Linked DNA regions of Homo sapiens. The protein of the gene in region 1 interacts with the protein of each later gene in a pairwise test. Each region holds a gene or a part of one and is shown in the gene's direction. Other genes may lie near its edges. The genes, in order: ABCA1 and AOX1.

What was found.
Region 2: the proteins of ABCA1 (region 1) and AOX1 interact in a two-hybrid assay, tested with the Homo sapiens proteins (one study listed by BioGRID).

What each region holds. Positions count from the first base shown.
Region 1 is NC_000009.12:104,780,444-104,785,391, reverse strand, and holds the end of ABCA1 (phospholipid-transporting ATPase ABCA1), read left to right. Parts: intron 1-936; coding exon 937-1,077; 3' UTR 1,078-4,386; downstream 4,387-4,948. UniProt on the Homo sapiens protein: Catalyzes the translocation of specific phospholipids from the cytoplasmic to the extracellular/lumenal leaflet of membrane coupled to the hydrolysis of ATP.
Region 2 is NC_000002.12:200,602,912-200,610,209, forward strand, and holds part of AOX1 (aldehyde oxidase), read left to right. Parts: intron 1-355; coding exon 356-445; intron 446-1,105; coding exon 1,106-1,186; intron 1,187-1,784; coding exon 1,785-1,929; intron 1,930-2,624; coding exon 2,625-2,717; intron 2,718-6,072; coding exon 6,073-6,224; intron 6,225-6,409; coding exon 6,410-6,503; intron 6,504-7,298. UniProt on the Homo sapiens protein: Oxidase with broad substrate specificity, oxidizing aromatic azaheterocycles, such as N1-methylnicotinamide, N-methylphthalazinium and phthalazine, as well as aldehydes, such as benzaldehyde, retinal, pyridoxal, and vanillin.

The sequences.
Region 1 (4,948 bases):
GCTTTGAGTGTCAAAACAGATTTACTTCTCAGGGTGTGGATTCCTGCCCCGACACTCCCGCCCATAGGTCCAAGAGCAGTTTGTATCTTGAATTGGTGCTTGAATTCCTGATCTACTATTCCTAGCTATGCTTTTTACTAAACCTCTCTGAACCTGAAAAGGGAGATGATGCCTATGTACTCTATAGGATTATTGTGAGAATTTACTGTAATAATAACCATAAAAACTACCATTTAGTGAGCACCTACCATGGGCCAGGCATTTTACTTGGTGCCTAATCCTATTTAAATTAGATAAAAAAGTACCAAATAGGTCCTGACACTTAAGAAGTACTCAGTAAATATTTTCTTCCCTCTTCCCTTTAATCAAGACCGTATGTGCCAAAGTAAATGGATGACTGAGCAGTTGGTGATGTAGGGGTGGGGGGCGATATAGAAAGTCAGTTTTTGGCCGGGCGTGGTGGCTCATGCCTGTAATCCCAGCACTTTGGGAGGCTGAGGAGCAGGCAGATCATGAGGTCAGGAGATCCAGATAATCCTGGCCAACAGGGTGAAACCCCGTCTCTACTAAAAATACAAAAATTAGCTGGGCATGGTGGTGCGCACTTGTAGTCCCAGCTACTTGCGAGGCTGAGGCAGGAGAATTGCTCGAACCCAGGAGGTGGAGGTTACAGTGAGCCAAGGTCTCGCCACTGCACTCCAGCCTGGGGACAGAGCAAGACCCCATTTCAAGGGGGGAAAAAAAGTCTATTTTTAAGTTGTTATTGCTTTTTTCAAGTATTCTTCCCTCCTTCACACACAGTTTTCTAGTTAATCCATTTATGTAATTCTGTATGCTCCTACTTGACCTAATTTCAACATCTGGAAAAATAGAACTAGAATAAAGAATGAGCAAGTTGAGTGGTATTTATAAAGGTCCATCTTAATCTTTTAACAGGTATTTGTGAACTTTGCCAAGGACCAAAGTGATGATGACCACTTAAAAGACCTCTCATTACACAAAAACCAGACAGTAGTGGACGTTGCAGTTCTCACATCTTTTCTACAGGATGAGAAAGTGAAAGAAAGCTATGTATGAAGAATCCTGTTCATACGGGGTGGCTGAAAGTAAAGAGGAACTAGACTTTCCTTTGCACCATGTGAAGTGTTGTGGAGAAAAGAGCCAGAAGTTGATGTGGGAAGAAGTAAACTGGATACTGTACTGATACTATTCAATGCAATGCAATTCAATGCAATGAAAACAAAATTCCATTACAGGGGCAGTGCCTTTGTAGCCTATGTCTTGTATGGCTCTCAAGTGAAAGACTTGAATTTAGTTTTTTACCTATACCTATGTGAAACTCTATTATGGAACCCAATGGACATATGGGTTTGAACTCACACTTTTTTTTTTTTTTTTGTTCCTGTGTATTCTCATTGGGGTTGCAACAATAATTCATCAAGTAATCATGGCCAGCGATTATTGATCAAAATCAAAAGGTAATGCACATCCTCATTCACTAAGCCATGCCATGCCCAGGAGACTGGTTTCCCGGTGACACATCCATTGCTGGCAATGAGTGTGCCAGAGTTATTAGTGCCAAGTTTTTCAGAAAGTTTGAAGCACCATGGTGTGTCATGCTCACTTTTGTGAAAGCTGCTCTGCTCAGAGTCTATCAACATTGAATATCAGTTGACAGAATGGTGCCATGCGTGGCTAACATCCTGCTTTGATTCCCTCTGATAAGCTGTTCTGGTGGCAGTAACATGCAACAAAAATGTGGGTGTCTCCAGGCACGGGAAACTTGGTTCCATTGTTATATTGTCCTATGCTTCGAGCCATGGGTCTACAGGGTCATCCTTATGAGACTCTTAAATATACTTAGATCCTGGTAAGAGGCAAAGAATCAACAGCCAAACTGCTGGGGCTGCAAGCTGCTGAAGCCAGGGCATGGGATTAAAGAGATTGTGCGTTCAAACCTAGGGAAGCCTGTGCCCATTTGTCCTGACTGTCTGCTAACATGGTACACTGCATCTCAAGATGTTTATCTGACACAAGTGTATTATTTCTGGCTTTTTGAATTAATCTAGAAAATGAAAAGATGGAGTTGTATTTTGACAAAAATGTTTGTACTTTTTAATGTTATTTGGAATTTTAAGTTCTATCAGTGACTTCTGAATCCTTAGAATGGCCTCTTTGTAGAACCCTGTGGTATAGAGGAGTATGGCCACTGCCCCACTATTTTTATTTTCTTATGTAAGTTTGCATATCAGTCATGACTAGTGCCTAGAAAGCAATGTGATGGTCAGGATCTCATGACATTATATTTGAGTTTCTTTCAGATCATTTAGGATACTCTTAATCTCACTTCATCAATCAAATATTTTTTGAGTGTATGCTGTAGCTGAAAGAGTATGTACGTACGTATAAGACTAGAGAGATATTAAGTCTCAGTACACTTCCTGTGCCATGTTATTCAGCTCACTGGTTTACAAATATAGGTTGTCTTGTGGTTGTAGGAGCCCACTGTAACAATACTGGGCAGCCTTTTTTTTTTTTTTTTTAATTGCAACAATGCAAAAGCCAAGAAAGTATAAGGGTCACAAGTCTAAACAATGAATTCTTCAACAGGGAAAACAGCTAGCTTGAAAACTTGCTGAAAAACACAACTTGTGTTTATGGCATTTAGTACCTTCAAATAATTGGCTTTGCAGATATTGGATACCCCATTAAATCTGACAGTCTCAAATTTTTCATCTCTTCAATCACTAGTCAAGAAAAATATAAAAACAACAAATACTTCCATATGGAGCATTTTTCAGAGTTTTCTAACCCAGTCTTATTTTTCTAGTCAGTAAACATTTGTAAAAATACTGTTTCACTAATACTTACTGTTAACTGTCTTGAGAGAAAAGAAAAATATGAGAGAACTATTGTTTGGGGAAGTTCAAGTGATCTTTCAATATCATTACTAACTTCTTCCACTTTTTCCAGAATTTGAATATTAACGCTAAAGGTGTAAGACTTCAGATTTCAAATTAATCTTTCTATATTTTTTAAATTTACAGAATATTATATAACCCACTGCTGAAAAAGAAAAAAATGATTGTTTTAGAAGTTAAAGTCAATATTGATTTTAAATATAAGTAATGAAGGCATATTTCCAATAACTAGTGATATGGCATCGTTGCATTTTACAGTATCTTCAAAAATACAGAATTTATAGAATAATTTCTCCTCATTTAATATTTTTCAAAATCAAAGTTATGGTTTCCTCATTTTACTAAAATCGTATTCTAATTCTTCATTATAGTAAATCTATGAGCAACTCCTTACTTCGGTTCCTCTGATTTCAAGGCCATATTTTAAAAAATCAAAAGGCACTGTGAACTATTTTGAAGAAAACACAACATTTTAATACAGATTGAAAGGACCTCTTCTGAAGCTAGAAACAATCTATAGTTATACATCTTCATTAATACTGTGTTACCTTTTAAAATAGTAATTTTTTACATTTTCCTGTGTAAACCTAATTGTGGTAGAAATTTTTACCAACTCTATACTCAATCAAGCAAAATTTCTGTATATTCCCTGTGGAATGTACCTATGTGAGTTTCAGAAATTCTCAAAATACGTGTTCAAAAATTTCTGCTTTTGCATCTTTGGGACACCTCAGAAAACTTATTAACAACTGTGAATATGAGAAATACAGAAGAAAATAATAAGCCCTCTATACATAAATGCCCAGCACAATTCATTGTTAAAAAACAACCAAACCTCACACTACTGTATTTCATTATCTGTACTGAAAGCAAATGCTTTGTGACTATTAAATGTTGCACATCATTCATTCACTGTATAGTAATCATTGACTAAAGCCATTTGTCTGTGTTTTCTTCTTGTGGTTGTATATATCAGGTAAAATATTTTCCAAAGAGCCATGTGTCATGTAATACTGAACCACTTTGATATTGAGACATTAATTTGTACCCTTGTTATTATCTACTAGTAATAATGTAATACTGTAGAAATATTGCTCTAATTCTTTTCAAAATTGTTGCATCCCCCTTAGAATGTTTCTATTTCCATAAGGATTTAGGTATGCTATTATCCCTTCTTATACCCTAAGATGAAGCTGTTTTTGTGCTCTTTGTTCATCATTGGCCCTCATTCCAAGCACTTTACGCTGTCTGTAATGGGATCTATTTTTGCACTGGAATATCTGAGAATTGCAAAACTAGACAAAAGTTTCACAACAGATTTCTAAGTTAAATCATTTTCATTAAAAGGAAAAAAGAAAAAAAATTTTGTATGTCAATAACTTTATATGAAGTATTAAAATGCATATTTCTATGTTGTAATATAATGAGTCACAAAATAAAGCTGTGACAGTTCTGTTGGTCTACAGAAATTTACTTTTGTGCATTTGTGGCACCACCTACTGTTGAAGGGTTATAAAGCCATTAGAAAAGTAGAGGGGAAGTGATTTGGATCAAAAGGAAAAACTTTAGAAAAGATTCAAATGTTCCCTTAATCATAAAAGAGAACTGAGGGGACTACTTGAAAATAAAAGGTTGTTTTGTATTTTCATGTTGGTTAAGATACTGAGTAACTGGTATTAAGTGTTAGAGGTTTTTAGATAAATATTCTGCTTAATGATTATGAAGCTGCACTGAGATTTCTGAAAATGCTCTGTAGCTGAGCTTATTTAATAAATGTTCACTTGGTATAGGGGAAGCTACAAAGGCAGCCTTCAGTGTCCTTTTGTTTATTCAACCAAAAATATAAGGACACAATGTAGCAGTTATACTGGGAAGGTGCTGGGGGTGGTGGCAATGGTGAGCAGGAAGGCGAAGTAGATATGGAAACAGAAATGATACTAATATCGGTGATTCCTTCCTTTTTTCCTGTAATAAGTGCTGTGCAGACAACATATGAGCAGTGCTGATAAATGTAAATGTATTTTTCA
Region 2 (7,298 bases), on another chromosome or scaffold:
TAAGAACAGTGATGACAATAACAATACCTGTTAATATTTATTATTAATATTTAAAATACTAACAATATTAACAGTTAATCATTATTAATATTTACTATTTAATGCTATGTGCCACGCTTAGTTATAAGATCTTTATGTCTTTTAACTTATTTAGTAATCACTGCTATTCAAAATTTTCTGTAAGCTCAGGTTTTTCATTAATGTTGGTTTGGATATGTTTAAGTACAAATGGCTCTCTTTCATGGCATCTAACGATATTGATTCAGCATTATGTTTCAACTGGCATTCACCTGCTTTATTTACTAGTTAGTAGAATCAGCAATAAATTCCTAGTGATTTGTTTTTTGTCCACTAGACTTCGGGCTGCTGTCAAAGTAAAGAAAATGGGGTTTGCTGTTTGGATCAAGGAATCAATGGATTGCCAGAATTTGAGGAAGGAAGTAAGGTCAGTGAAATGTAAAGCTTTTATAAGGCTTTCTCAGGACATGAACAGGAGCCAACATACTCTTAGGAAGAACAAATGGCTACCCAAGTTGACTAACTTGAGGTATGTCAACATGTGCCCTCTCCCATTCTCACTCCATCTCTCTATAAAAAAAAATTATATCGCAGCAACTTTGTCCTCATTCCAGATATTATTCCCATTTAAATACAGTTATCTACAGGAGGGAAAACACATTGGTTCCTTAGTGTCTCTTAGCTTTTAAAAGCATTTTTTCAAGTTATTTTTCAAGGGCCAGAAGTAAAGTGGAGATGTCATGAAAATAAAAGAACAGGTAGAACAAGTAGAGACAGGAGAGGTTCAGGGAGCCGTTCTTGTTCCAGCTGTGTCTGCGGCTGCTGCCTCCTCTTCTACTGTCCCCAGACTCCAAAGAGAAGGTACAGGGAGTTGAGGCCTCCAGAGGCCCATTGGCATCAGCACTGAGTTGCTGATGACAAGGTTTGTGTTAGAGCCCTTGGTTTGGAGCGCGGGGATTGTGGCTGGCCAGTGGACTTTTTTGTCGGTTTGCTGTATCTGACTGTGTATCTATATCTTTTGACCTTATTCCACAAAGGATTTTAAAGTTGCTCGATAACAGTAATTTCTGATATGTTCTCTTTTTAGACAAGTCCAAAACTCTTCGCAGAAGAGGAGTTTCTGCCATTGGATCCAACCCAGGAACTGATATTTCCTCCTGAGCTAATGGTGAGTAAAGCAATGTTGAGCTCATCCTAGAAGAATTCATGGTGAAATATCAGGAAGGGTATTTGTTTATGGGTTCTCTCAAAAGCTGATTGGCAAATAGGTGAGGCCTCTCTGTCATCCTTAGCTCAAGGTCTAAAGAGTATGGACTAAGGAAGAGGAGGAGGAATGGGGGTGGGGTCCCCATGGGGGACAGCTGAGTTGACTGTAAGAAGCAGCAGATAGCTTCTATAAAATCGTGAAATCACAGTGTTTGTAGGTATAGACATGTTTCCTACTTTCACTTTTGCTGAAGTTTATTCCTCCATAGAATGATTTAACAAGATTCAGCATGTTACTATATTTGCTAACATTAAAATGATGTTCTTTGAGACAAGAGCACCAAAGGGAGACAGACCAAGCAGTTCCCAGGAGTAAAGAACCATCGTGCTTTTATTCTGAATTCTAATTCCTTGTAAAGCTCTACTTTTAGGTCACTTTGTACTTTATTTTTTAGAAGATATGTATTTTCTCATTCTGTATCTACAGTGCTAATGATTGAGTGGAAACAGGTGGAGATGGCATCATTGGGTACCTTGAATCCCTATTGCTTTTTCAATAGATAATGGCTGAGAAACAGTCGCAAAGGACCAGGGTGTTTGGCAGTGAGAGAATGATGTGGTTTTCCCCCGTGACCCTGAAGGAACTGCTGGAATTTAAATTCAAGTATCCCCAGGCTCCTGTTATCATGGGAAACACCTCTGTGGGTATGTAGAACCCCAGGGATTTTTTATAGGGAAATTGAGAAAAAGGGCTTGGGATGGGGCCGGGGTGGGCTGGGGAAACTTCATATACATGTGTTCTCAGGAAAAGCAGTCTGAAATAGCATTTTTAATCATTTGAGCTAGACTTCCTGAGCATTGCTCAAGAGACTTTCTAACTGTTATTAAGTAGATTCCTCTTGCCTCTTATTGGAGCAGTGTCAAGAGTTGTACCGAAGGGGCTTGCTCCATAGCAAACCAGCAGCAGGAGCTTCAGTGACAGCTGTCCTGTCTTTCCTTTTGGGGACTAATCTGGGCCTCAAATTTCAAATTGCTCTTTGTTTCCTCTCTCAGGGTGTCTCAATAGGTATATGTTTTACTTAAACAACCGCTACAGGGTCTTCCTGTTGCATCCAGTGTGTGCTCAGCTTGAGGAGCAGCCCCTAGAGTCTTCCCAGAGAGAATTTTGAACATGCCATATGGCCCAAGTTTCAAGGTTGACAATTCCAGAGTCTTCCAAGTTTGATGAAAATCTATCCAGCCATTCTCTCTGTATGTGATTTGGCAATAAACAGATGAATAGAAAGATACAATATTTTTAGATATTTAAAGATATTAGTTTAATAATAATTTCAAATTTAAAAGGCAGTTAGTTCCTTTATTCTAGTCTTATTGATTTTTTTTTTTTTTTGATCCTTTAGGGCCTGAAGTGAAATTTAAAGGCGTCTTTCACCCAGTTATAATTTCTCCTGATAGAATTGAAGAACTGAGTGTTGTAAACCATGCATATAATGGTGAGTTCTCAAGTCCCTGTTTTCTTAGTTAAGATGCATTAATCAATTTATTTACCTTGCCCAGCAGACAAGCAGAAAAAGAATGATTCCTAATTATAATACACACAGAGATTCTCTTCTTATAAGAATGATATGTTTGTTGGCCACATAAATGTCTTCTTTTGAGGAGTGTCTGTTCATATCCTTTGCCCATTTTTTGATGGGGTTGCTTTTTCCTTATAAATTTATTTAAGTTCCTTGCAGATTCTGGATATTAGACCTTTGTCAGTGGGTAGATTGCAAAACTTTTCTCGCATTCTGTAGGTTGCCTGTTCACTCTGACACTAATTTCTTTTGCTAGGCATAAACTCTTTAGTTTAATTAGATCCCATTTGTCAATTTTGGCTTTTGCTGCAATTGCTTTTAGTGTTTTAGTCATGAAGTCTTTGCCCATGCCTATGTCCTGAATGGTATTGCCTAGGTTTTCTTTTAGGGTATTTATGGTTTTGGGTTTTACATTTAAGTCTTCAATCCATCTTGAGTTAATTTTTGTATAAGGTGTAAGGAAGGGGTCCAATTTCGTTTTCTGCATATGGCTAGCCAGTTTTCCCAGCACCATTTATTAAATAGGGAATTCTTTCCCCATTGCTTGTTTTTGTCAAGTTTGTCAAAGATCAGATGGTTGTGGATGTGTGGTTTTATTTCTAAGGTCTCTGTTCTGTTCCACTGGTCTATATATCTGTTTTGGTGCCAGTACCATGCTGTTTTGGTTACTGTAGTCTTGTAGTATAGTTTGAAGTCAGATAGTGTGACGCCTCCAGCTTTGTTCTTTTTGCTTAGGATTGTCTTGGCTATACAGGCTCTTTTTGGTTCCTTATGAAATTTAAAGTAGTTTTTCTAATTCTGTGAAGAAAGTCAATGGTAGCTTGATGGGGATAGCATTGAATCTGTAAATTACTTTGGGCAGTATGGCCATTTTCATGGTATTGATTCTTCCTATCCATGAGCATGGAATGTTTCTCCATTTGTTTGTGTCCTCTCTTATTTCCTTAAGCAGTGGTTGGTAGTTCTTCCTGAAGAGGTCCTTAACATCCCTTGTAAATTGTATTCCTAGGTATTTTCTTCTCTTTGTAGCAATTGTGAATGGGAGTTCATTCATGATTTGGCTCTCTGCTTGTCTATTGTTGGTGTATTGGAATGCTTGTGATTTTTGCACATTGATTTTGTATCCTGAGACTTTGCTGAATTTGCATATCAGCTTAAGGAGTTTTTGGGCTGAGACGATGGGGTTTTCTAAGTACACAATCATGTCATCTGCAAACAGAGGCAATTTGACTCCCTGTCTTCCTATTTGAATACCTGTATTTCTTTCTCTTGCCTGATTGCACTGGGCATAACTTCCAATACTACGTTGAATAGTAGTGGTGAGAGAGGGCATCCTTATCTTGTGCCAGTTTTCAAAGGGAATCCTTCCAGCTTTTGCCCATTCAGTATGATATTGGCTATAGGTTTGTCACAAATAGCTCTTATTATTTTGAGATATGATCCATCAATACCTAGTTTATTGAAAGTTTTTAACATGAGGAGATGTTGAATTTTATCAAAGGCCTTTTCTGCATCTATAGAGATAATCATGTGGTTTTCGTCACTGGTTCTGTTTATGTGAGGGATTACATTTATTGATTTGCATATATTGAACCAGCCTTGCATCCCTGGGATGAAGCCAACTTGATCGTGGTGGATAAGCTTTTCGATGTGCTGCTCATCATCACTGATCATTAGGGAAATGCAAATCAAAACCACACTGAGATACCATCTCATGCCAGTCAGAATGGTGATTATTAAAAAGTCAGGAAACAATAAATGCTGGCAAGGCTGTGGAGAAATAGTAATGCTTTTACACTGTTGGTAGGGGTGTAAATTAATTCAACCGTTGTGGAAGACAGTGTGGTGATTCCTCAGGGATCTAGAACCAGAAATACCATTTGACCCAGTAATCCCATTACTGAGTATATACCCAAAGGATTATAAATCATTCCACTATAAAGACACATGCACACTTAGGTATATTGCAGCACTATTTACAATAGCAAAGACTTGGAACCAACCCAAATGCACATCAATGATAGACTGGATAAAGAAACTGTGACAGATACACACCATGGAATACTATGCAGCCATAAAAAAGAATGAGATCATGTCCTTTGCAGGGACATGGATGAAGCTGGAAGCCATCATTCTCAGCAAACTAACACAGGAACAGAAAACCAAACACCACATGCTCTTACTCATAAGTGGGAGTTGAACAATGAGAACACATGGACACAGGAAGGGGAACAACACATACCGGGGCCTGTTGGCGGGTGGGGAGCAAGGGAAGGGAGAGCATTAGGACAAATACCTAATGCATGCAAGGCTTAAAACCTAGATGACAGGTTGATAGGTGCAGCAAACCACCATAGCACATGTATACCTATGTAACAAACCTGCACATTCTGTACATGTATCCTAGAACTTAAAGTAAAATAAAAGAAAAAGAAAATGGGGACAGAAAGCATAAAAAAAAAGAATGATAACATTCTGGAGGAAGACTGAGGGAAGAATTCTCTAAAGTTAATCTAAATACTAATTGTCTGAATAGTTCAGTTTTTACTGAAGAACTTCTTCTGTCTGCAATATCAGAGAAATGTAACAACTATTCAATGAAGGATACGGTGCTAAGTGCTGGACAGAAGATAAAGATGAATATAACACAGTCTTTGCTCTTTAAAACCACAGTAGCGAGTTTATGTATTCAACAGCTTACAGACTGGTTTTTCTACTCCTGTAGAGGAAATTGATATAATGGCAATGATAAGAAGCAATAGAAATGTGGGTTTGCAGTACAGCCTCTGAAATCTAACTCTTGACAATGGCATATATTAGCTGTCAGATCTTAGGCAAGTTACTCAACTCTCAGTTTCTTCATCTGTGAAATGGGGCTATTAATATCTCATAGGTATGTTCAGATTTAAGGAGATTATCTAAAGCATTCAACATAATACTCAATAGAGTGAGTGTTCAAAGAATTCAGCCTTCATTACCTCCATCAACACCACTTACATCACTACCACCACCTCTATCATTACCCCACCTTCATCACCACCACCACACCACCCCCTCAACTGCTATCCCTACCACCATCGCCTCACCACCACTTTCATTACTACCATTACCTTCATCACCATCACCACCATCACTGCCCATCACCACCATCACCAATAAGCAGGGCAGCATGTATCCAGTATAAAGATTCTATGTCTGTAGCTTTGGTCTAATGGACATTTTCAGATCAGCAGTGATCGCACTGTGTTATTTACAAATGACTTCATTTCAGGACTCACCCTTGGTGCTGGTCTCAGCCTAGCCCAGGTGAAGGACATTTTGGCTGATGTAGTCCAGAAGCTTCCAGAGGAGAAGACACAGATGTACCATGCTCTCCTGAAGCATTTGGGAACTCTGGCTGGGTCCCAGATCAGGAACATGGCTGTATGTATCTGATGACAGTAAACTCTGGTATGCATCCCTTGGGTGACTCTCCCTGATGAATCATGACATTTTCATTCTTTTGGAACAGACAAAAAAAATAGTTCTCCAAAGCCTTGCTTAATCCTTATTTTAGCACTTGCTTTTTTATGATTACATAAATGAAAATAACTCATTATTTTTAAAAGTCTTTAGGGGGACACATCATTAGCAGGCATCCAGATTCAGATCTGAATCCCATCCTGGCTGTGGGTAACTGTACCCTCAACTTGCTATCAAAAGGTAAGTGACAGCCCCTACTTGGAGATTATTAAGCTGTTTCTCTACCCCTTTTTCTCTCTGGGGAGGCAGGAAATCCAGTCTTGAAAATGACTTTTCCCTATAATATCAATACATTTCTCTGCTTTTCTGGATACTGGAAATTTTGTGAGTCTTGTCTTAATAGCACAGGCTTTCTTCCCCTGTGTCTTTCTGGTTTTTTGTTTGTTTGTTTGTTTTTCCTCATACTGGTCACCCTACACTGGACATGTTTGTGTTGGTTAATGTCCGGATGTGATCTGATTATTGCTGGGAACTACATACTATTGAGAACTATTGGGTCCCTTTGTTGAAGACATTCTCCAGGTGGTACAGGAGTGTTGTGGCACCCACATCGTGCTTTGAGCTCACACTTAATTTATCATTGATGGAAACATACAGGTCTTTTTCAGGTGAAAAATGATTGGGCCTCATTCTATATTTATTTACTTGATTTTTGTTATTAAAACTAAGTCCACAACATCTAATTTATCGCTTCTTCCAACTTGCTTGAAAATTATTAGGAAGTTCTAATTGGTCCTCTGTAAATTTGTGGGGTTTTTTTTCGTTAAAAAATATGGACTAGTTTTCTATCATCTGCATTGTTAAATACTTACTCTTCATACCATTTAAACCATAAAACTATCTTTTTTTTTTTTTGAAATGGAGTCTCGCTCTGTCACCCAGTCTGGAGTGCAGTGGCACAATCTCAGCTCACTGCAACCTCTACCTCCTGGGTTCAAGCGATTCTCCTGCCTTGGCCTCCTGAGTAGCTAGGAC